Linked DNA regions of Homo sapiens. The protein of the gene in region 4 purifies or fractionates together with the protein of the main gene of each other region. This does not show direct contact. Each region holds a gene or a part of one and is shown on either strand. Other genes may lie near its edges.

What was found.
Region 1: the proteins of PSRC1 (region 4) and PINX1 purify together in Homo sapiens (co-immunoprecipitation; one large-scale study listed by IntAct). This does not show direct contact.
Region 2: the proteins of PSRC1 (region 4) and YTHDC2 purify together in Homo sapiens (co-immunoprecipitation; one large-scale study listed by IntAct). This does not show direct contact.
Region 3: the proteins of PSRC1 (region 4) and PRMT2 purify together in Homo sapiens (affinity purification with mass spectrometry; 3 studies listed by BioGRID and IntAct, with this or other methods). This does not show direct contact.
Region 5: the proteins of PSRC1 (region 4) and GNL2 purify together in Homo sapiens (co-immunoprecipitation; one large-scale study listed by IntAct). This does not show direct contact.
Region 6: the proteins of PSRC1 (region 4) and UNC13A fractionate together in Homo sapiens (co-fractionation; one large-scale study listed by BioGRID). This does not show direct contact.
Region 7: the proteins of PSRC1 (region 4) and REXO4 purify together in Homo sapiens (co-immunoprecipitation; one large-scale study listed by IntAct). This does not show direct contact.

Annotation. Positions count from the first base shown.
Region 1 is NC_000008.11:10,822,876-10,826,375, forward strand, and holds part of PINX1 (PIN2/TERF1-interacting telomerase inhibitor 1), read right to left. Parts: intron 3,370-3,500; coding exon 3,277-3,369; intron 2,569-3,276; exon of another isoform or gene 2,498-2,568; intron 1-2,497. UniProt on the Homo sapiens protein: Microtubule-binding protein essential for faithful chromosome segregation. Mediates TRF1 and TERT accumulation in nucleolus and enhances TRF1 binding to telomeres. Inhibits telomerase activity. May inhibit cell proliferation and act as tumor suppressor.
Region 2 is NC_000005.10:113,520,194-113,523,693, reverse strand, and holds part of YTHDC2 (3'-5' RNA helicase YTHDC2), read right to left. Parts: intron 1-3,500. UniProt on the Homo sapiens protein: 3'-5' RNA helicase that plays a key role in the male and female germline by promoting transition from mitotic to meiotic divisions in stem cells.
Region 3 is NC_000021.9:46,652,674-46,656,173, reverse strand, and holds part of PRMT2 (protein arginine N-methyltransferase 2), read right to left. Parts: exon of another isoform or gene 3,330-3,500; coding exon of another isoform or gene 3,120-3,329; exon of another isoform or gene 1,077-3,119; intron 1-1,076. UniProt on the Homo sapiens protein: Arginine methyltransferase that methylates the guanidino nitrogens of arginyl residues in proteins such as STAT3, FBL, histone H4. Acts as a coactivator (with NCOA2) of the androgen receptor (AR)-mediated transactivation.
Region 4 is NC_000001.11:109,280,346-109,284,486, forward strand, and holds the start of PSRC1 (proline/serine-rich coiled-coil protein 1), read right to left. Parts: upstream 2,801-4,141; 5' UTR 2,718-2,800; exon of another isoform or gene 2,392-2,717; 5' UTR 2,354-2,391; coding exon 2,335-2,353; intron 2,231-2,334; coding exon 2,173-2,230; intron 1,716-2,172; coding exon 1,274-1,715; intron 907-1,273; coding exon 792-906; coding exon of another isoform or gene 702-791; coding exon 432-701; intron 145-431; coding exon 51-144; intron 1-50. UniProt on the Homo sapiens protein: Required for normal progression through mitosis. Required for normal congress of chromosomes at the metaphase plate, and for normal rate of chromosomal segregation during anaphase. Plays a role in the regulation of mitotic spindle dynamics.
Region 5 is NC_000001.11:37,578,938-37,582,437, forward strand, and holds part of GNL2 (nucleolar GTP-binding protein 2), read right to left. Parts: intron 3,400-3,500; coding exon 3,286-3,399; intron 2,609-3,285; coding exon of another isoform or gene 2,405-2,608; intron 1-2,404. UniProt on the Homo sapiens protein: GTPase that associates with pre-60S ribosomal subunits in the nucleolus and is required for their nuclear export and maturation.
Region 6 is NC_000019.10:17,636,355-17,639,854, forward strand, and holds part of UNC13A (protein unc-13 homolog A), read right to left. Parts: coding exon 3,486-3,500; intron 3,172-3,485; coding exon 3,082-3,171; intron 2,864-3,081; coding exon 2,729-2,863; intron 1-2,728. UniProt on the Homo sapiens protein: Plays a role in vesicle maturation during exocytosis as a target of the diacylglycerol second messenger pathway.
Region 7 is NC_000009.12:133,408,011-133,411,510, reverse strand, and holds part of REXO4 (RNA exonuclease 4), read left to right. Parts: intron 1-437; coding exon 438-526; intron 527-2,668; coding exon 2,669-2,743; intron 2,744-3,500.

The DNA.
Region 1 (3,500 bases), on a different chromosome or scaffold from region 4:
ATGTAGGTAGCTTCAATAGTTTAGAAAATTCATTTGCATTATTCAATCAAGAAGGACAAATAAAATGACATACTTTTATTTTTATCTTTTTAAATGGCAAACACACAGAACTGGCAGTCAACCGAGGGCAGAAGATAAGGGTAACTCCACTAAAAGACACCATAAACCAGGAAAGTGGAAAGAGTCAGTGTGAGTGACACAGGTCAGACCTACCAGGTGCTACCTGATATTTATTTAAATGTCAAAAGAATCAGAAGAGGAGATTGAATGCTCCTCACTACCAGTGTGCAACTGAGGGGCGGGGCTGACTGCGCTGTGAATACCAATTCTGTATTTCCCGACCAGGAAGCCGAGCACCTGCACATGCGTTAGGCATGTAGTTTCCTTGTTTCAGTAGCATATAAAATAGCCCAAACTCTCAAAAGGATTAAGAAGTCTGCAAGATTCCCAGGATAAAGCTGCACAATTACAGTTTATGCAACTTTCATCCAACAACTGCATAACTGAGGGGAGGAAGCACTGCTCTCCTGCTCTCCTGCCAACGTCTCACCATCCAGTCAGAAAACCTCAGAAATGGCTTTGTATCGATTGACATTTTCCCCTCTGCAGATATAGCCTCTATCTGCAGAGACCTTTTGCATTAAAAAAAAATACAAAAAACTACAAACCAAGCTGGAGTTGAGCCTTTAAATAAGTATGATAAAACTGACATTTAAAATTATACAATAAATTAGCTCAAGTTAGAATTATAAACTCAGGACCAGGGAAAGGAATAATTATATATCAGAACTAAAACGATATAACCAACCAGGTGCAGTGGCTCACACCTGTAGTCCCAGCACGCTGGGAGGCTAAGGCAGGACGATCACTTGAGCCCAGAAGGTCAAGTCTGCAGTGAGCTGAGACTGTTCCTCTGTGCTCCAGCCTGGGCAACAGAGTGAGATCCTGTCTCAAAATAAAAATAAAAATAATGATACAGCTGATATTTAGGCAGTAGCAAATTTTACAACACTATTTGCTACTGTAATCTTAGTAGAGTAAAATTTTAATCTTCACTCTTCCCAAGCTATGTACAATTGCATCTTCCTGTTTGATTTCCTGGACGATACATGAGTTGCAATATGAATCATCCTCATCAACTAAGTGAATGAGTTACAGTCGTTATCAGCATACCCACTGGCGAAAATCTTTATTATCTACAATGCTGAAAAAGCAAAAGTTCCATGAAATGGGTCATTTCTAATAAATCATAAAACAGAACCTACCTTAGAACTTAATAGTCACTTACAAATGTATCCACATTTTACAAAAGAGGAAACTGAGTCTGAAGGGAAATGGGTAGGTGACTTGTCTGAGCGAGTAATGGCCAGAGTGAGATTTTCTGTGATCTAAGATAGTCCACCCTAGAGGAAACTTTAAAATAAGTGTGCACCGTGATTGGAAAGCTAGCTGATAAACCATTCTTTTCCTCACTCCCTGGACTTTTGCTTCCTTCTCCCTTTCCTACGTAGGCCCAGTCTGCATGTCCTTCCCGTCTCCACTCCAGCTCTTCTCTGCAATCTGACAATAGATCCGAGAATCCTTCTGTTCTGCATACTGACTCCCTCTTCTCCCCAGGCAAGGCTAATAGATACAGAACCCTCGCTGGAAGACAGAAAACGAAGGCACGAGGCACTCAGCGGTCTCACAGGGTCACCCAGCAAAGGAGTGGCTTAACTAGAAATAGAAAGCAGATGCTCCCGGCATCCATTAGATTAAAGCAGATTACAGAGGCTTATCCCAGCCTCAGCAAATGCTTCAGATGAAATCATGCATGCAGTCTGGCATCAAAGGAAAATTAGAAGATTCTACCTGTAAAAGTGAAAGCGTAAAAGGCTGCCACATCATCCGAAAGTTACAGGTCACTGAGTTTTATTAATTTGCTCTGCAACAGCACCTTCTGTGATCTCTAGTTTTTCTCTACAGTCTAATGAAAGAAGAAATGCTATTTCAGGGACTGGGTATGAAGTGAGCATGTACCCTCTCTTCAAAAGGACTGAGGGCCAAGGAAGCCTGTATTCTGTTCCATAGCACGCTGGGGTGGAGAAGAACCCCAGTCAGAAGGGATACGGGCGACAGCCAAGAAAGTTCCATGTGAGAGAAAGAACGGAGGAAGCGGAAGAGCCACGGCTGCTGGAGAGGGAAGGGAGGCCCAGCCTCTCCCTGCACACAATCCCCAATCCACTCAGCTCTGCCACGGCCTCTCACCTCAACCAAACCCAGCCCTCACTTTTGGGCTCCTGGCCCTAAATGAAAAGCATCATCAATACTTCAGAGTAGTGGGGATTCCAGCTCCCACTGCTATCCAGGCTGGCTGTACAAGTTAAGAGCTTCCCAGCAATGCCCTGATACGCATGACATTCCTAGAAGACCAAAGCAGAGATGTGCTGTTCCTGGCATATCAAGGTAGAAACACATCCAACCTCCCAGGAAAGAACCATCAACAGAGACTAGATATTACAGCATCAGCAGCATCATCACGCTTCTTATGTAAACTATGTAATAAGTAGGTTTCTAATTCATGATACTGTTCTACAGACAAACTGGGGAGTTGGTTCTATTAGGTTAAATTGCTTCTTTCCAATGCAAGATCGCCACCTAGTGGCTGAAGACAACAACCGCATGCACAAATGATTTCACATACTGGGAAGGGGCTAGGGAGGTGGTGATGAAGGAATAGGAATTCTCACCCAGGTCTCAAACGGCTTTTTACCCGACTTGGCAATGACTATGGAATGCCTACGCTGTGAAATGGAGAAATTACGTGGAATAAAGGGTCAACCAGGGAGTGTGCTTTATCACACTGGAGGTATCAATATAGAGCATAATTCTCTAACCTGGCGTATTAAAAGCTATTTAACACCAACTTTCAGCTGTGAAAAAACACCATGCAGCTAAAAATGTTGGGCAAGAAATTAAAATTATTTTCTGACCTAGCTACATAAAGTCCCGTTTTCCTCTAAATATAAGCTGATTCCATTTTTTAGCTCAGCCACAGGACTTGTTTACAGTCTAAAACCTAATCTGGGTCCCATCTCAGATCTCCTAGATCTGAATTCTAACAAGATCCTCAGGCACACCACAGTCAATGCGAAGACTCCAGCGCTGTTTCACAGCAATGCAGTCGGAGCTGTCCATAAAGCATGAAGTCGCTATTGGCCCAGAGCTAAAATGCTTCAAGCAACTCAGGACAAACACGTAGATTTCAATAACAAGTAAAGAAATGCTTAATCTTACCTTTTGTGAATTTCATATAGTGAACACGGTTTTTGGAGATTTTGGACTTTTCCTCAAGGCTAAAAGATTTCTTTTCCTTCTTGTCCGAGGAATCTTTAAAAAAGATGAAAAAAATACATTAAAGTCTTTCTAATCCAATCTCATTTATTCTCCTAACAGTGGATAGTCTTGAAAGAAAATTTTAGGAGCCCTATCATTAATGATTGAACTCTTTCATTCATTTG
Region 2 (3,500 bases), on a different chromosome or scaffold from region 4:
TTCTGGAAACTCCTTATTGAATATTTCAATGAATTTTAAGCTTTCTAGGTTGTTATTTACTCCTTAAAAAGTACTTGGTGGTACTTAAAATGATGCTATAAAGATGAAATAAAATTTAACCTGATCTAGAAGTTTTACTTATTTCCATGATAAATTCAAATTATTGAATTCCATAAATGTTCTCTATAATAGGTTCTTTTCCCACGGACCTTTCTGAAACTAAAGGACAGTCATTATAGACTCAATAATTCATTCCCCTTCTGTGATGTTCATTTCATAAAATTTTAACTACAAAAGGCAGGAAGTGAGCTGAACTGAGCACCAGAGCAAATGGTAGGAGGCTAGTATTCAGCTAGTAATAAACTTTCAAGCAGTTACATGATCAACGGCAAATCATTTTACTTCTCTGACACTGTACAATTGTTAATTTTAAAAACTTCATATTTTTAAGAACTCAAAGATGCTTTAATTTTCTTAAAAATCATCTCAGAAAGGTTTTGCTATATTTCACCTTTAATTGTATTTTATTCATTCACTCAATCATTTATCATCTATTAACTAAACACTGACTTTATGCCAGGCACTGTGGTAGAAGCCAGGAATACAAAATGGAGTAAAATATACCCTTTCTCAACAAGCTCACAACTGAAATAATAAGTTAGATTGAAACCTTCCTAACATAGGTTACCTAATATAGCATTTAGGTATTAAAAAAAACCTCATAATAAGCAGGTGGGACTACTTAGCCATTACCATTTAAAATTTACTGAATTCAGTTTGAGCACATATGGTAGAATGGAAAGATAATATCAACTTGATCATTTTTATGTTTTAGTAAAGGAGTCTACTTGTGCTTTTACTGATTATTCCTACCACAGTCAGCACCACAGTGACACTGATATATCATAAAAGGATTAATGAAATTTTTGGTAAAATATTCACCTCATTGTTGTGAGGATGGAAACATTAAATACAGTAGAAATTTGTCATACTACGTAAACTAACAAATTGAGAACTCCTTATTATGCTTTCATTCCAAGATAACCGAAACTATGGTTTGATGATAAACACAGGAATCTTTTATACAAAGCAAAATTAACTAAAAACTAGCTGCACATGTGGAAAAGATGCTAGCTAAGTGAAATTCACAAGAGTTTTTTAAATAAAAGGTAAACCCCATATGCAATTTTGAAATATAAAAGTAAATGTAATAAAATTACAGTTGAGAGCATCATAACACCTAACTTTCGAAAAATAAAAGTAACCGATGCATTTTGGCATTTCAATGGCTTCTTCCTTTGAAAGAAAAATGATGCTATAAGTAATCAAATTTGACACAATGTTAACATTAATCAATTTACTAATTTAAAAGGATGTTACTAAACATTTAAATCAAATACAAACATATGCTTCAATATTCCCTACTTGTAAATCTAAGAACAGTTTAAAAGATCAGCTGAAGAGCCCAAATCTCAAATGACTGCTTAAAAAGCTCACAGACACCAGGAGTCTCTTAAAAACAAACAACAACCACCACCAAAAAAAAAAAAAACAAAAAACAAAAAAAACAGGCATTCATTTGATGCCTAATAAGTACTTAATTTTATATTCCCTTAATTTATATTTCCATTAGGCAGACAGATGCAAAGATCTAGCTCCAAACCACTTTCTCCCCAATACTGTAATACAGAATTGGAAATGTAGTAAAGTTTGCATCATACTAATTTGTACTTTTTTATGATTACCTAAAAACTAATAAACCAACCAGTTCACTTCATGTTGTCGCCAAACTGAGCACAGCTGCTTTCAAGGTATGGTCACTATGCCTATAGTAAATTTATTTTTCTGGGTTTTTCTTTTTTTTTTTTTTTTTGAGACAGAGTCTTGCTTTTTGCTTTCAAGGCATGGTCACTATGCCTACAGTAAATTTATTTTTCTGGGTTTTTTTTCTTTTTTTTTTTTTGAGACAGAGTCTTGCTTTGCTACCCAGGCTGGAGTGCAGTGGCACGATCTCGGCTCACTGCAACCTCCGCCTCCTGGGTTCAAGCAGTTCTCCTGTCTCAGTCTCCCCAGTAGCTGGGACTACAGCCGCCCGCCACCATGCATGGCTAATTTTTGTATTTTTAGGAGAGATGGGGTTTCACCATATTAGTCAGGCTGGTCTGGAACTCCTGACCTCAGGTGATCCACCCACCTCGGCCTCCCAAAGTGCTGGGATTACCAGCATGAGCCACTGCGCCCAGCCTATTTTTCTGGTCTTAATGAACTATAAGCTAAATTGAAGATGAGATCTATCCAATATTTCTGTTCTAACTCCTCAGAGCACCTACTACACTGCTATGAACTTGATGTGAACATCAAAAAATAATTAGTTAAGTATTAACTGTGTTCAAATCCTGGCTCTGCCACTTGCTAGCTGTGTGATCTCAGGAAAATTACTTAACATCTCTAGGCTTTAATTGCCTCATCTGTTATATAGGTGCCAGGTGTTAAAATAGACTCTGCCTTATAAAACTTGTTATGATCCATGGTAGACTGGATAAATAAAATGTGGTACTACATATACACCATGGAATACTATGCAGCCATACAAAAGAATGAGACCATGTCCTTTGCAGGAACACAGATGGAGCTGAAGGCCATTATCCTTAGCAAACTAACCCAAGAACAGAAATCCAAATACTGCATGCTCACATTTGTAAGTAGGAGCTAAATGATGAAAACACATGGACACATAGAGGTGAACAACAGGCACTGGGGTCTATCAGAGGGTAAAGGATGGGAGGAGGGAGAGGATTAAGAAAAATAATGGGTACTAGGATTAATCCTGGGTGATGAAATAATCTGTACAACAAACCCCCTTGACTCATGCTTACCTATGTAACAAACCTGCACATGTACCTCTGAACTCAAAAGTTGAAAAATAAACTATATCCACACTAGTACACAAATGGAGGCATGCTCTGTCATACATCCTGCTGCATTTAATGTATAAGAAAGAACCATTGGTCCTTGTTGCTCACTTCTGTGAACAAAAAGTGCACTAAGGCCATGGGAGTCATCCACTTTCAGGTCAAGGTCTATCCTTTCCCTTGTGGTAAATACCAGGCCAGAGATGAATCAGCACCAAACCAAAGGCCCTCATCCAAATATGAGAATGCTGACTCCTTCTCATTTAAAGAAAAAAAAAAAAAAGAGATTCTTTTATTTTCAATAATCCTTTATTCTTGGGAAAACCCAGTTTAAATGTGACCTAATTTTTTATTTTATTTAGCATATTACATCTATGATCATAAGTAAGATAAACCCATAATTTTCATTTCTAATATCTTCTTTATCTGAGTTAGGTAGCGAAGTTATACTAGTTTCATAAAAAACAGGAGGTGTCCCTCTCTTTGATTCTCCAGGAAAAACTGAAGTAAAAATAAAATTATGTTTATTGTGCAGCCATAAAAAAAGAGTAAGTTCATGTCCTTTGCGGGGACATCGATGAAGCTGGA
Region 3 (3,500 bases), on a different chromosome or scaffold from region 4:
TGCCAGGCTCTTTTTCACAACCAGCTCTTGTTGGGACCTGAAAGAGCTAGAACTCACTTATCTACCCACGAGGAAGGGCATTCATCTATTCATGAGGGATCCACACCCATGACCCAAACACCTCCCACTAGGCCCCACCTCCCAACACCACCACACTGAGGATCAAATTTCAACATGAGATTTGGTGGGGACAAACCATAGCACTAGTTCCTTTACATTCCATATACATTTCATAATGAGCTTATCTATAAGAACAAATCCTGCTTGGATTCTAATTGGAATTTTATTAAGTCTACAGATCAATTTAAAAAGAACATACGTCTTTACTAGGTTGAGCCTTCTTATCTCTCCATTTATTTAGGTTTTCTGGGGTTTCTTTCATTATCATCTCATCATTTTCAGCATCCAGATCACATTTTGTTAGATTTCTAAGCCTTTCATATTTTTGAAGCTACTGTGATATTCTTTAATTTCTAATTGTACATTGCTAAGATATAAAAATGACTTCTGTATGATGACCTTGCACTCTGTGATCTTGTTAAACTCACTTACTAGTTTTAGGAAATTTTCTCATAGACTCCTTAGGATTTTCTGTAGGTTTTTTTGTAGATGTCCTATGTCATGTTAAATTTCCTTCCCTTTCTAGTTTGCTGAGAATTTTATCATGAACTGATGTTGAATTTTGTCAATTTTTTTCTGTATTGATATAATCATGATTTTTCTTCTTCAGACTGTTAATATGGTAGATTACACTGATTGATTTTCAAATATTGAACCAGCCTTGCATTCCAAGGATAGTTTCTTTTTTTGTTATGGTGTATTATTATTCCTTTTATATCCTGCTGGTTTAAATTTGCTAATGTTTTCTTGAGGATTTTTACATTTATGTTCATGAGGGTTATTGGTCTGTAGGTTTCATATTTTGTGTTAACATTGGTTTTGGTATTAGGGCAATGCTTACCTCATATAATGAGTGAGGAAGTGTTCCCTCTTCTTTTCTGAAAGTTGTTTAGAACTGGAGTTTTTTCTTCATTAAATGTGTTGATAGAATTCACCAGTGAAATCATTTAGGGTAGAGATTTACCTTTCAGAAGGTTTTTAAACTATTAATTCAATATCTTTACTAGTTATTGGACCATTCAGGTTATCTATTTCATGTTAGATGAACTGTGGTAATTTGCAGTTTTCAAAAGAATTGGTCCATTTCATGGACCTTCTTTGCTTCTCACTCTATGTATGTACACTCTATGTACATACATAGAGGGAGAAGAAAGAAAATGATAACTCAAGACTGTTTCAGGAATACAGTTGTTTCTTGGTGTCTATGGGGAACTTGTTCCAGGACCCCCGTGGATATTCAAATCCTTGGATGCTAAAGTCCCCCATATAAAATAACGTGGTTTTTACATACAGGCTACACACATCCTCCGACAGACTTTAAATCATCTCTAGATTACTTCTACCTAATACAATGTCAGTGTTATGTAAGTAGCTGCTATACTGTATTGGTGTGTTATTTGTATTGATGTTTATTGTTGTATTGTTATTTTTATTTTCTGATATTTTCAATACATGTAGGTTGTATCTACAGATGTGGAGCCCACAGATACTTGACCGTACTTCAAATTCTTGTCTTCTTCACCAGTCGATTGCTACTATGTCTTTGTTCCAGAGTCCTCAAATAGTTTCTCCCTGTCTACTCTCCAGGATTTATAGCTGCATTCAGTGGGAGACATGAAAGGAGTATGCCTTCTCCATCTTATCTGGAACTGAAGCTAGGTTACCACTATGTCTAATTTTTAAACACAAAATTGGAATCATACTGTACATACTCTGTACTTTTTTTAAAAACTAGCAACATGTCACCAACTTTTTCCAAAGACTGTTAAAAATCTTTCTAAAACATAATTTTTAATGATCATATGTATTGCTACAATTCTGTTGTTTCCAATTTTCTCCCCATTTTAAACGGTGCTGCCATGAACATTTTTTAACATAAATTTCTGTACAAATTTGATTATTTCCTTAGGATAATTTCATCAAAAAAATTTGGTGCCTGGTCTCTGGGTCCAGCTGCTGGGAAGGAGGACACTGCAGTCTCAGCACCCACCAGCTCCTCCTCCTTCCTCCTCCCCCGAGGTGAATGTGCCCTCAGAAGTGCAAGCTGCTGATTAACTATGCTGCATTTTTTATGACGTGAAAGTTCGGAAATGCTCCACGCCAAAAAAAAAAAAAAACAAGAAAAGAAAAAAGGCTGTCATTTTTTGTCCCAGTGCAGACAAAGTGCATTGTTGTAGAAGGAGGTGAAGAGACCTTGGTTGGAGATGTCTAAGTGTAGCCATAAGCGGTCCTTCAAGCATGTGGTGGCAATGTTTCCTGAAAAAGATGTCTCTGTACTTTGTATGAGGCAAGCTTTAAAACCAAGGAATCCAGAAGAGTTGATGGTTTTGTGTGTGTGCGTGTGGGCACCAGAACTAGCACCTCTGAAAAGTAAAATGATCTACATGAGCTCCAGGGAATGCAACCAAAAAGAAATATCAAGGCATAAAACATGAACATCAAGCAAAGGGGCCAGAAGTCCTCCCTTAGGCCTGTCCCACTGGGAAGCCAGGCGGCCTTGGTTGTGGCCTCTGCAGGGTGCCCTGTGTAGATCGTCCTTCAGTGCCACAAACTGAAAGTGCCCGTGTTTACGCTTATCCTCTTGTTGTGTAAATAAAGCAAATACATTTAGGCCAGAGTCTTGCTGAGGGGGAGCTGTCCCATCATCTACACCACACATTCTATAAATATGTGCAAACAGCCTTAAATACATCCGAAGTCTGAAGTGTTATTGGTATGAAATTAAATTCTTACTGGCCACGTGCCTGTTTTCATGAGCTGACTTATAAAGACTTTCGTTAAGCTCAGGATTTGTGATAATACAGTCAATAAAACAGTACAAGGCTGTGTGAAGAGAATTATTACATCTTTGTTAACCTCAGCAGTTACTTTGTTTCTTTTGCTTAGAAAATTCGTCATAATGTGGTTGTAATTTTGGTCCAAATTCTTTATTCTTCCTTGAGCTAAAGAGAATAACGGAATATAATATGTCCTCATCACATATTGACAGCACGAATACACTAACAACAGTAAGACTGAGTCTGGCAGTCTTTTAATTCTACCAAATGTGCAATGGAGATCCTCAGTGACCTTGCAAAGCGTCCTGAAAGGTCCAGGAGGCAGCCCCTGCACCTGCAGTGCCACTGGCTAGTGGGAGACTGCTGAGTGTGCAACCTGCTTCTCGGAAATCGTGGCGTGGCCTCAGGAGAACAAGCAAGATCCTGTAACAACTAATGATAACGCAAATTAGGGCTCAATTGTCACCTGCTTTGTTAACAAAAATGATTAAATGGTCTGTTGACAATCTAGGACACCTGTGGTATCTTTACTTGCGTCTCCTTCAGAACTTTGCTGCTTCTGGAAAAACAAAAAAATTTTAATGCTCTTTGACTTATTCTGCC
Region 4 (4,141 bases):
GATGATGGCGGGGTAGGGAGACAGGATGGGCAAGGGAGGACCAGACTGACCTGGTAGGTCCTGGGACTGCCACTTTCCTGGGGGGCTGCAGATTGCTGCGAGTGGCACCCATGACAGGAAGATTTAGTCGCTGGGAAACAGGAACTTCATGGGGGTTAACAAAAGAAATGAGTTAGCAGCAAGTTTAACTGACCTCGAAAAGAAATACTGGATGAAGGGAGCGAGTGTGGGATTAGTACTCTCCCCCTGACCATGAGGTATTTGAAAACTAAGACTCAGACTCTGTCCAGCCCCATATCCTCTCTGTAACTCAGTCTCCCCATCTTCCAATTGAATTGCAATAAGGATGGCAAAAGTGGTCACTGTTGACAGCTCTGGGAGGGTGAGGACACGCTGGGCAAGGGCGGGCATTCTTCCTCCTGACCTCTTACCCTTGTGTCCACTTTCCCGCACTCTGTGTCCTGCAGTGCTTGGTCTTGGAAGCCCTTTTCGAGTTGACAGAGAATCCGGAGGTAGGGCACCTCTGCCAGGTGGCACACTCCGGCTGGTGAGTGGCATTCGGCTGGCAGGCCTGGGGATGGCCGAGGGAATGGGCAGTTGACTGGAAGATTTAGCAGCTGCTCCCTGCGGCCGGGGCAGGCGTTGAGAGTTGCTGGTAGAAGGCTGTGGGGCCAGGACGGATCTGATGGGGGTGGGTGGGCCTGGTGGAGAGGGGTGGAGAAATTTCAGGGTCAATCCCACAAACTCCCCACTCCCACTCACCCGCAACTTGGCTGCTCTGGTCTCCTCACTGGCTGCTGCTCTCCCACTGGGCCCGGCTCTCCCCCGGACTGGGGGAGTCGATCGGGTAAGAGGAGAAGATGCTGGGCTTTTGGATGCAGGGAACAGATTGCAAGTGGGTGACTCCTGAAACACAAAGAGAGAGAGAAAAAAGACTAGAGTGGAAAAAATATCTGTTCTGTGGCTTAAGGAATTAAGAAATAGAGGTGGAGAGTTGTCTACATCCCAGTAAGGAAGGGTAGAAGTTAGCTGCTAACATCACCACATCACCATCACCATCACTATTGCCAATACCATTTATTGAGTTTATCATAGACATATACTCAGACACTGTGGTAAGAGTTTTGGTTCTCTTTTTTCATGGTTCTCATTTAATTCCAACAATTCTAGATGTAGAAATGCTATCCCTGTTTTACCAATAAGGAAACCACTCCCTGCATCATGGCACACACCATGTCTGGGGCACACCTCCAACTCAACTCTCTCAACTCACCCTCTTCATGTTGGAGGGCCTCTTTCCAGATGTAGCCCGGAGAGCCCTGACTGACCCCTTCCTATCATTACTCCGGAGTCGAGGCGTCAGGCTGCTTGGGGAGGGGGTGCTCCGCGTCAAAGAGTTCACAGTGGGCAGCAGGTCTCGGACAGGACTATCCTTCAGCACAAAGGTCTCCCGCCGAGGACTGGGCTTCACTCGGCGAGGCCCCAGGCCCTCGCCTGCGCTCTCCCGATCCTGCAGGGCACACTGCTCCAGCTGAGCGGCCAGCCGGTTGGCCTCATCGAGGATCTCCTCCAGCTTCTCTGGACTGAGGGGGCCTAGGCTGAGCCTCACACCCTGGGGGGCAGGTGCCACTGCATTTGGGTCACTTCGGTGGGAGAGGCCCCGTCGAAGTGGTTTCTCTGGAGTCACCAACACTGTTATGTCTTCCTCCTCACGGCTGAGACAGGAAACAAACCAGGCATCATGCCCATGCAAAAGGGAACAGGAGATTATGCAAGGGAGACTGCATAAAAGCCCCACAACAGAGCCAGGGACATGACCCTAGGCCCCGATGCCCATGCTGGCTGTGAGATGTGGCCTCTGGGCGATGAGATACCTGGTTCTATGGGGCCTAATAGGCCTTTAGCATTTACGGACATCAGAAATGATGCCAGGATGGAGATGCAGCAAATCCACTTATCCTTCTTCTTAACACCCTGAAATCTAACTCCAGCTTCTCCCTTCTCTCCCCGCTACCAATAGTGTCATAGAGGCCCGAGTCAGCCAGCCGCCCAGCAGCCCCAAGTGCGCCAAACCTTGCTAAGTTACCAACCCAAGCCAATAATTCAGCAGTAAGGGATTCGAGACAAAGAGGTACTGTTAGAGGAAAATAAGTGGGATAAAGAGGCTGGTACCTGTCAGATGGTGACAGCCCCCCAAAGTCCAAGGTCTCATCCACAATAAACCTTACATCTGAAGGGGAAAGAAGAATGAAAGCCAGTCATGGGTCCCTGATGCAGCTCTCCATCGCTGGGTCTCACTCCTCCCTTTCATTCTTCCCTCCCTCCTTTCCTTACCTTCCTCCAAATCCTCCATGTCCAGCCAGCAGGAGCGAGAGTCCAGTTAGATCTGAGCTGGAGAGAAACCATACCTTTCCTCAGGTATCCATTCTGCCCAAGGCTCGCAGCTAGATTCAGGGTGCAAGCCAGGGTCGGGGGTCATGCTGGAGGCAAAGCAAGCGCCCAGGAGTGGCACCTCCCGCACAGCTACTCCTGCTACCTCCGGGAACGATACGGAGGGCTCCCCCAACTGCCCAGATTGCCCTGGAGCCGCCCTGCATCCTGGCCTCTCCTCACTGGGGGCGGCCTGCACGCCCCATCTTCCTCCCCGCCACTATCCTCAGGGTTCTGCACTCCCCAAGCCACCTTTCCACTCCCCTGGCATCACACGCGAAGCACACCTCCAGCCCACCCTGTGTCCACTTCCCGCGCCGCCTTATCTTCCACGCAACAGGCTTTCTCCCGCAACCTAGTCCCGGGAATCAGCTCCGAGGGGGCGGGGCTCCTTTCGAATCTCTCAGGCCCCACCTACTCAAGCCACACGCGCACCGTGATTGGTGAATCCTCAGGGGGAGGGGCTGAGGAGCTGCCGGCCGGAAGTCAGCCGGTGGGGGCTGGGGGAGAACCGTTCCCAGAAGACTGCATCCCGGTGGCGGAGCCGAGGGTTGAGGCTGCGAGTGCGCGTGCTCGCGTGCGCGGAGACTCTCTTTCCCGTAGGCAGATGGGAGCAGAGCGCGGCTGGCCAGGAGGGAAGAAACGGACCCACGAGTATGGAACTCGCGCCCCGCCCCGCTCCCTCTGCTGGGCCGCCGAGCACCCAGTCTCCAGAACGGTTGTGCTGCCTAACGTGGCCGCTAACCGACGCTCTACGGGAGGAAATTCGTTTTCTTGGGCGCACTCAATATGCAGGCGCCGCATTGGCCGAGGTTCCTCAGTTGTGGGTTTTTTCCAAGTTAAGGGAGCACCTAAACACTTATATTGTAGGTATATTGAGGTTCTCTTAGAAGTACATCCTCCATCGCCTCTTCAAGAACCTGAGGCAGCTGAGGTGCAAAGAAAGCAACGGGCTTTTCACGCAGGCAGGCTTAGGTTCAAATGCAACCCAAGTTTAACTGACCTCAGAACCCAAGTTTCGGTTTAGAGGCGGCTGCCTTGAGTATATTTGCCCTCTTTTCACCTCTCTTCGCTTATCTGTGAAAGGAGGATGTTGGTCCTCGCAGTTACGGTGTTACGAGGATAATTATGAAGGCGTTTTCTACCGTGTGCCCTTAGGGGATTTAGAGGGGGTGTTTGTAAGTAGCCCCCTCTGAACTAAAAGCAGTATTTGTAAAATGCTTAAACCAACTTGTTAGGAGTGTTGTCTCTGTTGTTTCTAAATGTTGCCCGGGCCACCAGTGAACTTGTCAGAGGCTTCAAACCAGAACGACTCCATCTGGAATAGAGGCTGGGTAAAATAAGGTTGAGACCTGGGCTGTATTCCTAGGAGGTTAGGCATTCTAAGTCACAGGATGAGATAGGAGGTTGGCACAAGATACAGGTCACAAAGACCCTGGTGGTAAAACAGCATGCGGTAAAGAAGCCAGCCAAAACCTACCGAAACCAAGATGGCGATGAAACTGACCTCTGGAGGTCCTCAGTCCTCATTATACGCTAATTATAATGTATTAGCATGCTAAAAGACACTCCAGACAGCATCACCACGGTTTACAAATACCATGGCAACATCAGGAAATTACCCTACATGGTCTAAAAAGGGGAGGAATTCTTAGTTCCAGGGAGTTGCCTACCCCTTTCCCGGAAAACTCATGAATAATTCATCCCTTGT
Region 5 (3,500 bases), about 72 Mb from region 4:
GTGAGCCATGATCGCACCACTGCACTTCAGCCTGGGTTAAGACAGAACAAGACCCTGTCTCAAAAAAATTTTTAAAGTAAAAGAAAAAATTTTTAAGCGTGACTGTAGCAGAAAACACAAAAAAACCCACAAAAATTTGGAGGTAACAGAATCAATGCAGACAGGAAAATTTCAAAACGTCATTAATGATACTGTGACTGTGAAATAAGATGTAAAAGGAGGCAGAGCAAATCAGAATTCAACAAGAGCTCTCAGAAATTAAAAATTAAAAGCAATTGGCAAAATAAATTTTGTGACTGGGCAGCTGGATGATCAAAACAAGGAAAGTGGCCGGGAGCAGTGGCTCACGTCTGTAATCCCAGCACTCTGGGAGGCCGAGGGGGGCGGATCACCTGAGGTCGGAAGTTTGAGACCAGCCTGACCAACACGGAGAAGCCCCGTCTCTACTAAAGATACAAAATTAGCCAAGTGTGGTGGCACATGCCTGTAATCCCAGCTACTCGGGAGGCTGAGGCAGGAGAATTGCTTGAACCTGGGAGGAGGAGGTTGCAGTGAGCCGAGATCGCGCCATTGCACTCTAGCCTGGGCAACAAGAGCAAAACTCTGTCTCACAAAAAAAAAAAAGTACCCAGAAAATAGAGGAAAATGTCATATATGTACCAAAAGAAAAAATATATAGGCCAGGTGCAGTGGCTCATGCCTGTAATCCCAACACTTTGGGAGGCTGAGGCGGGCGGATCACGAGGTCAAGAGATCAAGACCATCCTGGCTAACATGGTGAAAACCCGTCTCTACTAAAAATACAAAAATTAGCTGCGCGTTGTGGCGTGTGCCTGCAGTCCCAGCTACTCGGGAGGCTGAGGCAGGAGAATCGCTTAAACCCGGGAGGCGGAGGCTGCAGTGAGCCGAGATCACACCACTGCACTCCAGCCTGGTGACAAGAGTGAGACTCTGCCTCAAAAAAAAAAAAAAAAAAAAAGAAAGCAAATATAAATCAAGAATTAAACCAGGAGGTAAAAGCAAATTTCTGAACAAGAATACAGACAACTGAGGGAGGAAAGAAAATTTCAAAGAAATAATGTAAGACAATATCAGACTAAAGTCTCATCAAACGCCAAGCTCACTGAGCAATAAAAGGCCCACTTCAAGACACACCACTGTGAAATTTTAGAACAAGAGAAATTTTAAATTTTAGAATAAGAAAAGATTGGCTGGGCGTGGTGGCACACACCTGTAATCCCAGCACTTCAGGAGGCCAAAACGAGGCAGGAGGATCGCTTGGGCCTAGGAGTTTGAGGTTACAGTGAGCTGTGGTTGTGCCACCACACTCCAGCCTGGGTGACAAAGCAAGACCCTGTCTCAAAACAAGAAATCACAGCCACACAAAGTATGAGGGGTCAGAATGGCCTCAGATTCCTCAGAATTCAGAAGACAGTGCAGTGGTAACCTCAGTATTCTGAGGAAAAACAGCATAAAGGGTAGAATAAAGATCTTAATAAAGATATTTTCAGAACGCAAGGCGTATCTCAAAAAAATGTTCTTTCCAAGTATTCCTTCTCAGGAAACTTTTGGAAAATATGTCCCATGGAAAGAAAGGAGTAAACCAGAAAAGAAGAAAAGAGGTCCTATAAATAAGAGGTCCCATACAGGAAAACAGCCATGGGAATTCTCTGGATGACAGTGAAAGGAAATCCCAGAAAGACGACGCTGCAGCAGCCTGGAGAGCGGCCAGCCCTGCGGAGGACGGAGTGCTGGCCACCGAAGGGAACTACCTGTGCTGCCTGGAAGCTCTGACAGTTCCCACTGTATCAGAGAATTTGGTAGTATGATAGTGACAGATACAAATAGAACACAGCAAAGTAACACTAGCGAAAATAAAAGCTTCGATCAGAAAGGAATTATACTCATAGCACACCATGTGGATCAGCTGTGACTAATATTTTACAGTCATGACAATGTAAAGACTGAATGGCCAAGACTACTCTTCCCAGCCTGTTAGAGTGGCCACCCTGCAGGCTGCAACCCTTTATGAGAAATAAAGCTCTCCTTTCCAAGTTAAAACAACAACAACAACCAACCAACACTGAATGAATAATACTGTAACCCAACATTGGCATCTAACAATACAGGGGGAAGTACATACAGAGAGAGGATGGCTATAAGATAGCAAATCCTCATTTTCCATAGTAAGAAATTAATAAGCATCTTAAACTGGGGGTGAGGGGTGGGCACAGATCAAGAAAATCATAAGCATGTACTAAAAATATGGAGGAAAATAACAGAACTAATGGCTATTGGAAGCATTTGCTTCTGTAAAGTGGGGAAGGGTGGGACAGCAGACATGTGTCTTTTGTTAGAAGCCAGGTAGAATTAACTAAATAGACAAATTCAAAATGACAGGTACAGAACATGAAGCTTTAAGAATTTGATAGGGTAGTCTGGTTCCACGGCTTCCCTCAGGAGCTGACGTCTGACCAGGGATCTGAAGCTTGAATTTTGGCAGGGCCCTCTCCAACCAGAGGACATAGAAGCTGCATGGGCTCCATGGGCAGAGGATGCACAGCAGGCCTGGAAAGCCCAGCAGAGCGTGGAACGTCAGGTGCCAGGGCTGTGGCAGAAATGGAAGCAACACTGGTCACGGATGGGGGCAAAGGCTGAGCAAGAAAACACTTCAGAATCTCTTATAATCCTGATGCTCTGTGAGTTTTTACATCTCTGGAAGTTTTTACATCTTCTTCTTCTTTTTTTGAGAAGTCTCGCTCTGTCGCCCAGGCTGGGGTGCAGTGGCGCAATCTCGGCTCACGGCAAACTCCGCCTCCCAGGTTCAAGCGATTCTCCTGCCTCAGTCTCCCCAGTAGCTGGGACTACAGGCGTGTGCCACCATGCCTGGCCAATTTTTGTATTTTTAGTAGAGACGGGGTTTCACCATATTGGCCAGGCTGGTCTCAAACTCCTGACCTTGTGATCTGCCTGCCTCGGCCTCCCAAAGTGCTGGGATTACAGGTGTGAGCCACCGCGCCCGGCCACATCTTTTTTTTTTAGAGGCAGGGTTTTGCTCTGTTACCCAGGCTGGAGTGCAGTGGTGCCATCATAGCTCACTGTAGCCTTGATCTCCTGGGCTCCAGCAATCCTCCTGCCTCAGCGTCCTGAGTAGCTAGGACTACAGACCTGCGCAACCACGTCCGGCTAAGAAGTTGGCAACTTTCTGCTATGCCATGGCAAGACAGATTCTTATACCAACTCACAGCTACACAACTCCAGGAGAAACAGATCAGGGCTCAATACCTTTCCAAACTGCCGCAGAAGCTGAATGAATGCTCCCTTGCCAAACGGGTTAGTAAGGCTTGCATGGAAAGCAAGTGTTGGATAATCCTGGGAGAGGACAGCAACCCACCGTTTCTAGAAGGAGAGATGAAAACATTTTGGTAAACTGCAGTACATTTATTTACATTATGTGGAAGAATCAGAGCTTGAATTACAGAACTGTTTCAAATATACTG
Region 6 (3,500 bases), on a different chromosome or scaffold from region 4:
GCTTAAGATTTTTAGACTCCACTCTAAAAGTGAATGGAAATAAATGAAACCAAATTTAGTTGAACAAACCCAGCTCCACTAAACCAAATGGAAATGAAATGAATGCAAATTAAGCCCACTTAGCTTAACGGAAGTAAGTTCTTCCTCTGAGTTAAATCAATGGAACTGAACTTGGGCCAATCACACTGAATGGAGTGCAATTCAACCTAACTGGATTGAATTAAACTCAAATGAATTCCGTTGGATTGAACCTAATCAACTTGTCCAAGATCAACATCAACCCAAATCAAAATAATGGAAATAAATCGACTCGAACTCAACTCTACCCAAGTCAACCCAATCCGATTCTACCTATCTAAACCCAACTGAACATACGCAGGGCAATTCAACCCACCTTTGTTAATCAATGGAAATGAATATAATCAGCTGAAATTAGCCCAATTCAACCCAATTCAACTGAAATCAATTGCATCTAATCCAACAACCCAGTTCATCCTAACTCAAGACAATTTAACCCAGTTGAGAACAACTTGACTTGAATGTAAATGAACTAAATGGAAATGAATGAATTTGTACTCAATAAAACTCAATGCAATCAACCAACTTGTTCTTCTCTCTATTTTTTTTTTTTTTCTTTCAAGAGACAGAGTCTCATTCTGTCACCCAGGCTGGAGCGCAGTGGTGCAATCATGGCTCACCATAGACTCGAACTCCTGGGCTCAAGTGATCCTTCCACCTCAGCCTCCAAAGTAGCCAGGACTACAGGTGCGCCACCACACCTGGCTAATTTTTGTATATTTTGCAAAGATAGGGTCTCGCTATGTTGCCCAAACTGGTCTCGAGCTCCTGGCCTCAAGGGATCCTCCTGCCTCAGCCTCCTAAAGTGCTGACATTACAGGTGTGAGCCACTGAGCCCAGCCTGGCTCACTAATTTGTCAAGAACAATTTTTTTTTTTTTTTTGAGACGGAGTCTCGCTCTGTCACCCAGGCCGGAGTGCAGTGATGCGATCTCAGCTCACTGCAAGCTCTGCCTCCCAGGTTCACACCATTCTCCTGCCTCAGCCTCCCAAGTATCTGGGACTACAGGTGCCCGCCACCACGCCCGGCTAATTTTTTTGTATTTTTAGTAGAGACGGGGTTTCACTGTGTTAGCCAGGATGGTCTCGATCTCCTGACCTCATGATCCACCCACCTCGGCCTCTCAAAGTGCTGGGATTACAGGCGTGAGCCACTGTGCCTGGCCGTCAAGAACAATTTTAACTTAAGTCAACCAAATAGAAATAAATATAACTAAACTGATTATGGTTGAACTAAACAATCTAATTTAATCCAGTTCACCTCAACTCAATTCAAATGAGAGTGAGACTGATTCCAACTCTAGTCAACTGAATGTAAAGGAACAGAATGAAATCAAATTGAACTGAACACAGCTTATGTGTTATATCCTATCAGAACCTGGGTAGGGGCTGCCTCCAGCTCCCACAGCCTCCTGAGATCCCACTATCTCAATACTAACCATCCCTGTTTGTAAATTTCCAGTTTGTACATCTTTCCCTCATAATAGGCTATAAGCTCCTTATAGCCTAATTTAATCCAGTTCACCTCAACTCAATTCAAATGAGAGTGAGACTGATTCCAACTCTAGTCAACTGAATGTAAAGGAACAGAATGAAATCAAATTGAACTGAACACAGCTTATGTGTTATATCCTATCAGAACCTGGGTAGGGGCTGCCTCCAGCTCCCACAGCCTCCTGAGATCCCACTATCTCAATACTAACCATCCCTGTTTGTAAATTTCCAGTTTGTACATCTTTCCCTCATAATAGGCTATAAGCTCCTTACAGGTGGTGGCTCATGCCTGTAATCCCAGCACTTTGGGAGGCTGAGGCAGGAGGATCGCTTGAGCCCAGGAGATCAGCCTGGGCAACATAGTGAGATGCCATCTCCACAAAAATACAAAAACTAGCCTGTCATGGTGGTGCGTGCCTATAGTCCCAGCTACTTGGGAGGCTGAGGTGGGAGGATCACTTGAGCCTGGGAGGTCGAGGCTGCAGTGAGCCATGATTGCATCACTGCACTCCAGCCTGGGCAACAGAGCAAGACCCCATCTCAAAATAAATAAATAAATTCAATTCAACTCAACATTTACTGAACAGTGACTGTATGCCAGACATAAATTTTTATGCCAGGCTGGGAGTGGTGGCTCACGCCTATAATCTCAGTACTTTGGGAGGCCGAGGCAGGTGGATCACCTGAGGTCAAGGAGTTCGAGACCAGCCTGGCCAACATGGTGAAACCCCGTTTTTACTAAAAATACAAAAAATTAACTAGGTGTGGTGGTGGGCACCTGTAATCCCAGCTACTCGGGAGTCTGAGGCAGGAGAATCATTTAAACCTGGGAGGCAGAGGTTGCAGTGAGCTGAGATCACACCACTGCACTCCAGCCTGGGAAGCAAGAGTGAAACTTTATCTCAAAAAAAAAAAATTTTTTTTTATGCCAAACTCAACTACGCAACCAAATGTACTGAGTGCCGACTATATTTTATCTAAACTTACAGCTCATGAACTCTTCTCCCTAATCCTGAGATGTGGGTTAATGACCCCATTTTATAGAAGAAGATACTGAGGTTCAGAAGAGTTAAATCCCTCGGGAAGGGGCAGGGCTGGGACTGAAGCCTGTGTCTAGTTGGCATCACTGTTCCCTTCTGACCCATCTGGAGTCTCACCGGGTCTGTCTGGTACTCCCGGCTGTACAGTTCATGGCAGTTATTGAAGATGTACTCGTAGGTAGAATTAAGGCAGGCTTTCACACAGTCCTTTACCACCTGGCTGGCTCGGGGCGGGCTCTGGAGTTCTTGTACCTGAAGGGAGGGAGAGAGGCATAGGCGGCCACAGCTGTGACAGGAGGTCCCCAGGAAGTGACTGCGAGTCATTTTGGGTTTAAGGAAATGAAGTGGTATGAAAGGAAAAGGTTACTGAGAAAGGCTGCCACTCTCCAGGAGGAATGTCACTTGTCCTGGGAGCTGGGGATCCTAGAGAACCCTCCTTGGAGAGCAAAGGCAACTGGATCCTTTCCTACCTTCATCCGAAAGAAGGTGATGCTGGTGAGAAGGTCCACAGTGGATTTGAGGTCCTGGAGTCTCTCCGGGCTGCTGGCTGGGAAGTTATTCTGTTGGGAGCAGGAAGAGATGTGGGGTTATGGAAGAAGGCGTGGGGAGGATGGGAGACTGCTTTTCAGGGGGATACAAAGGCTCCCCGGTTTCAGGCTGGGGGTTGATTAGAGCACCTCGAAGCAACTGGGGATCTGCTTGGATGCACCAAGCACATTACGGCAGGTAGTGCCCATGCAGGTGCACACATGCTGGAGGAACACATCGTACATGCGAAGATGGGTCCTCCCATGCACACACCTGCTGGTAGCTTTCCCCTCCAGGCACACACATGTGCGTGGGGTGAGCAAATTCTCATGCACACACTTCCTACCCGGTACATGGAGAG
Region 7 (3,500 bases), on a different chromosome or scaffold from region 4:
GAGCCCAGGGCCTAGGGCAACACATCTCTACCCATTTTTGTGGGGGCAGTTTTGTTTTTATTTCCATTTGGGAAATTGTCAAGTAAATCATGAGGTTGAATAGGCAGAACCACGCTGCCAGGCGGCTCTAAAAGTTTCTCAGTGCCTACACTCAACATATGCTCTCCTCCAGCCATGAGCCGACTTTGCAGACTGTGTGGAGCACTTTATTCCTCTCCTCAGAGGTGGTTCTCGCAGCCACCCCTGCCAGGGGCCCACAAGGCACTTCTCCCAGGGGGGTGGGTGGATGTGGTGGCTTCGAGTCACCCTCCGTAGTGGCATTGCAGGCCTGACCATTTGTCTTAGGTCTGACCAGGGGTAGGAGCGGGGCTGCCTCCTCACAGAATGATGGTGATGTGTGTGTTGCAAAAAACCGCTTCTTTGTGTTGATTTTCCAGGAGAAGAGCTTGAAGTTGTTCAGAAGGAAGTGGCAGAGATGCTGAAGGGCAGAATTCTAGTGGGGCACGCTCTGCATAATGACCTAAAGGTACTGGGCTCTCTCCTGGGGACTCAGCCTGCCCCTGCTCCGTGGGTGTTACACTCACGCCCTTGCTGTGTTGGGGAGTTTTAACAATGTGTGGGTTTGTGCTCTATGTTGGGAATACTTTGGTAATAATATCAGATACCGCGTGCTGAGTTCTTACTGTGTTTTAGGAGCCATGCCAGGCTCTTGTTTTGAGAGCCCCCAGCGAAACTGGGGTACCCATACCAGAGCAGCTGGCAACCCCGCCCTAATGAGAAATGAAGGTGCTGATACCCCTTTTACCTGGAGGAAGGCCTAATGTCCAGTTGTCCCATCCGTGACCAGGGTCCCTCCACAGGAAACAAGTTTATCCTGGCAGATGCCCTGTGGCCCATGTTCAGGTTACGCTTGCCTAACCATCACCCTGGCCCTGGGAGCTTGCCTTTGCCTTCTTTCTGGCGTCCCGAGGAAAATCCCGCCTGGGGCAGCCCCTGGTTCTTCAGATGGAAAGTGCAAATTCAGACACCACCACCGTGGGAAACAAGTTCAAAGACATATACAGACCCTGGGCAGGGAAGGCGTCATGGGTGGGGAGGGCAGCCTGCCATCTCCTGGTCACCCGAGGCAGGAATGAAGAGTCAGGCAGAGCGAGTACGTGTGTATTTACAGGAGAACAGGGTGGGGGTCACTTTGAGTTTATGGGCAAATGCCTGGATGTTGGTTTAAAGGACACAGTGGGAACAGCGGGGAGGCCAGTCTGCTAGATGGGAGAGACACTTAAGTTGTCACCTCTGCCCACCGGCTTGAAGCACTTGGGTGTGGTGAGGAACTTGAAGCCGTTCAGAAGGAAGTGACAGAGATGCTAATGTTCAGGCAGCAGCCTTTGCTATGGTGCTCCCGTGACGGCACTGTAGAGATCCCTTGAATCCATTGAAGATGCTGGAGGTGTTCATGCTTGTTTACAGAGGGTGAAACTGAGGTGAGAACCCCCCGGGCAGTGTCCTCACAGAAAGGTCTTCTGTGTGCTCCTGCTGTACCCCCTCAGAGACTGCTGCCGTGGGGACTCGTCCTTCCCTCCTGACTCTGACTCCATCCCTGGCACCTTGCGCAGCACATGTTCAAGTCTTTCTTGAAGATGATGCTAAGGACCAGACACAGTGGCTTATGCCTGTAATCGCAGCTTTTTGGGAGGCTGAGGCTGGAGGATTGCTTGAGGCCGGGAGTTAGAGACCAGCCTGAGTAACATAGGGGAGACCCCATCTCTATAAAAAATTTTAAAATTAGCCAGGTGTGGTGGCGTGTGCCTGTTGTCCCAGCTACTCAGGAGACTGGGGTAGGAGGATCAGTTGAGCCCAGGAGGTTAAGGCTGCAGTGAGCCATGATTACCCTATAGCACTGCAGCCCAGGTGACAGAGTGAGATCCTATCAAAAAACAAAACAAAACAAAAAATTGCATGCTAAGATTGCAAGATGAGCTGTTAAAATGTGTTATTTGCAACTTCCTGATGTGTAGAACCAACTCAAAATACAAGTATAATATAGGAATAAGTTGGTTGCTGGTTAACTGTTGACTGTTTTTCTCCTACTTCCTTGATTTCAAGATTTTGTTTTTATTGTCTCTGACTGTTGGGCATCAGCTTAAGTCAGTGCAATAAATTTCCTTCTGGAGTTGAAATTCATATCAGTGCCTTGTTTCCATGTGTGTGTGACACACTTGGATTCCCTACAAGATGTTACTTGCAGGGCAGCCGCGTTGGCTCACACCTGTAATCCCAGCACTTTGGGAGGCCGAGGCGGGTGGATCACCTGAGGTCAGGAGTTCGAGACCAGCCTGGCCAACATGGCAAAACCCTGTCTCTACTAAAAAATACAAAAATTAGCCAGGCATGGTGGCGGGCACTTGTAATCCCAGCTACTCGGGAGGCTGAGGCAGGAGAATCACTTGAAACCTGGGGTCGGAGGTTGCAGTCAGCAAAGATTGAGCCACTGCATTCCAGCCTGGGTGACAGAGCAAGACTCCGTCACACACACACACACACACACACACACACACACACACACACACACACACACAAAGATGTTACTTGCAAAAGGTGGCGGGGGGAGGGGGTTCTGCTACTACAAACCAAAAATGAAAATGATTATCATTATATTTTATTTTTCTAGGTACTATTTCTTGATCATCCAAAAAAGAAGATTCGGGACACACAGAAATATAAACCTTTCAAGAGTCAAGTAAAGGTACTTAGAATGAGTGTGACTCAAGATACTGTATTTCTGTTTTGCTGGTCACTTCATTGTTTCTGGTCACTGGTGGCTGACTTGTTGGTTAAAGGGTTTTTGTTTTTTCTTTTAACCTTTAAAACTAGAAGGAATGTTTAAAAATAGAGTTCTGCTAATTGCTGACCTTAAAAATGATTGCAACGGAGGGCAAGTTATTTCCACTCTAACCTCTGAAACAGGGTCACTGACTAAGGGCCTGGTACCACTGTCGTATCTGCTCTAGAGGGTGCCAAGGGCAGAGCCGTTCTTCATCCTTTTTTTTTTTTTTAGACAGGGTCTTGCTCTGTCACCCAGGCTGGAGTGCAATGGCATAATCTTGGCTCACTGTAACTGCCACCTCCCAGGCTCAGGCAATCCTTCCACCTTAGCCTCTGAAGTAGCTGGGACTGCAGGCATATGCCACCACCCCTGGCTAATTTTTTTATTTTTATTTTTTTAGAGATAGGGTCTTGCTGTGTTGCCCTGGCTATTCTCAAACTCCTGGGTTCAAGTGATCTGCCCTCGTTGGCCTCCTAAGTGCTGAGATTACAGGTGTGAACCACCATGCCTGGCCAGAGCTGTCCCTCTTGAAATAAGCAGGGAGGCCTCAAGATGGGAGATGGGGATGCTGACTCCTCCCCTGGCCCTCTCCTTTTATTGGCTGATAGGGGTGTATCACCAGCCCATCATGCTATAAATGGCAGCTGGTGGCTACCACCCTAAGTGCCATGAGCAC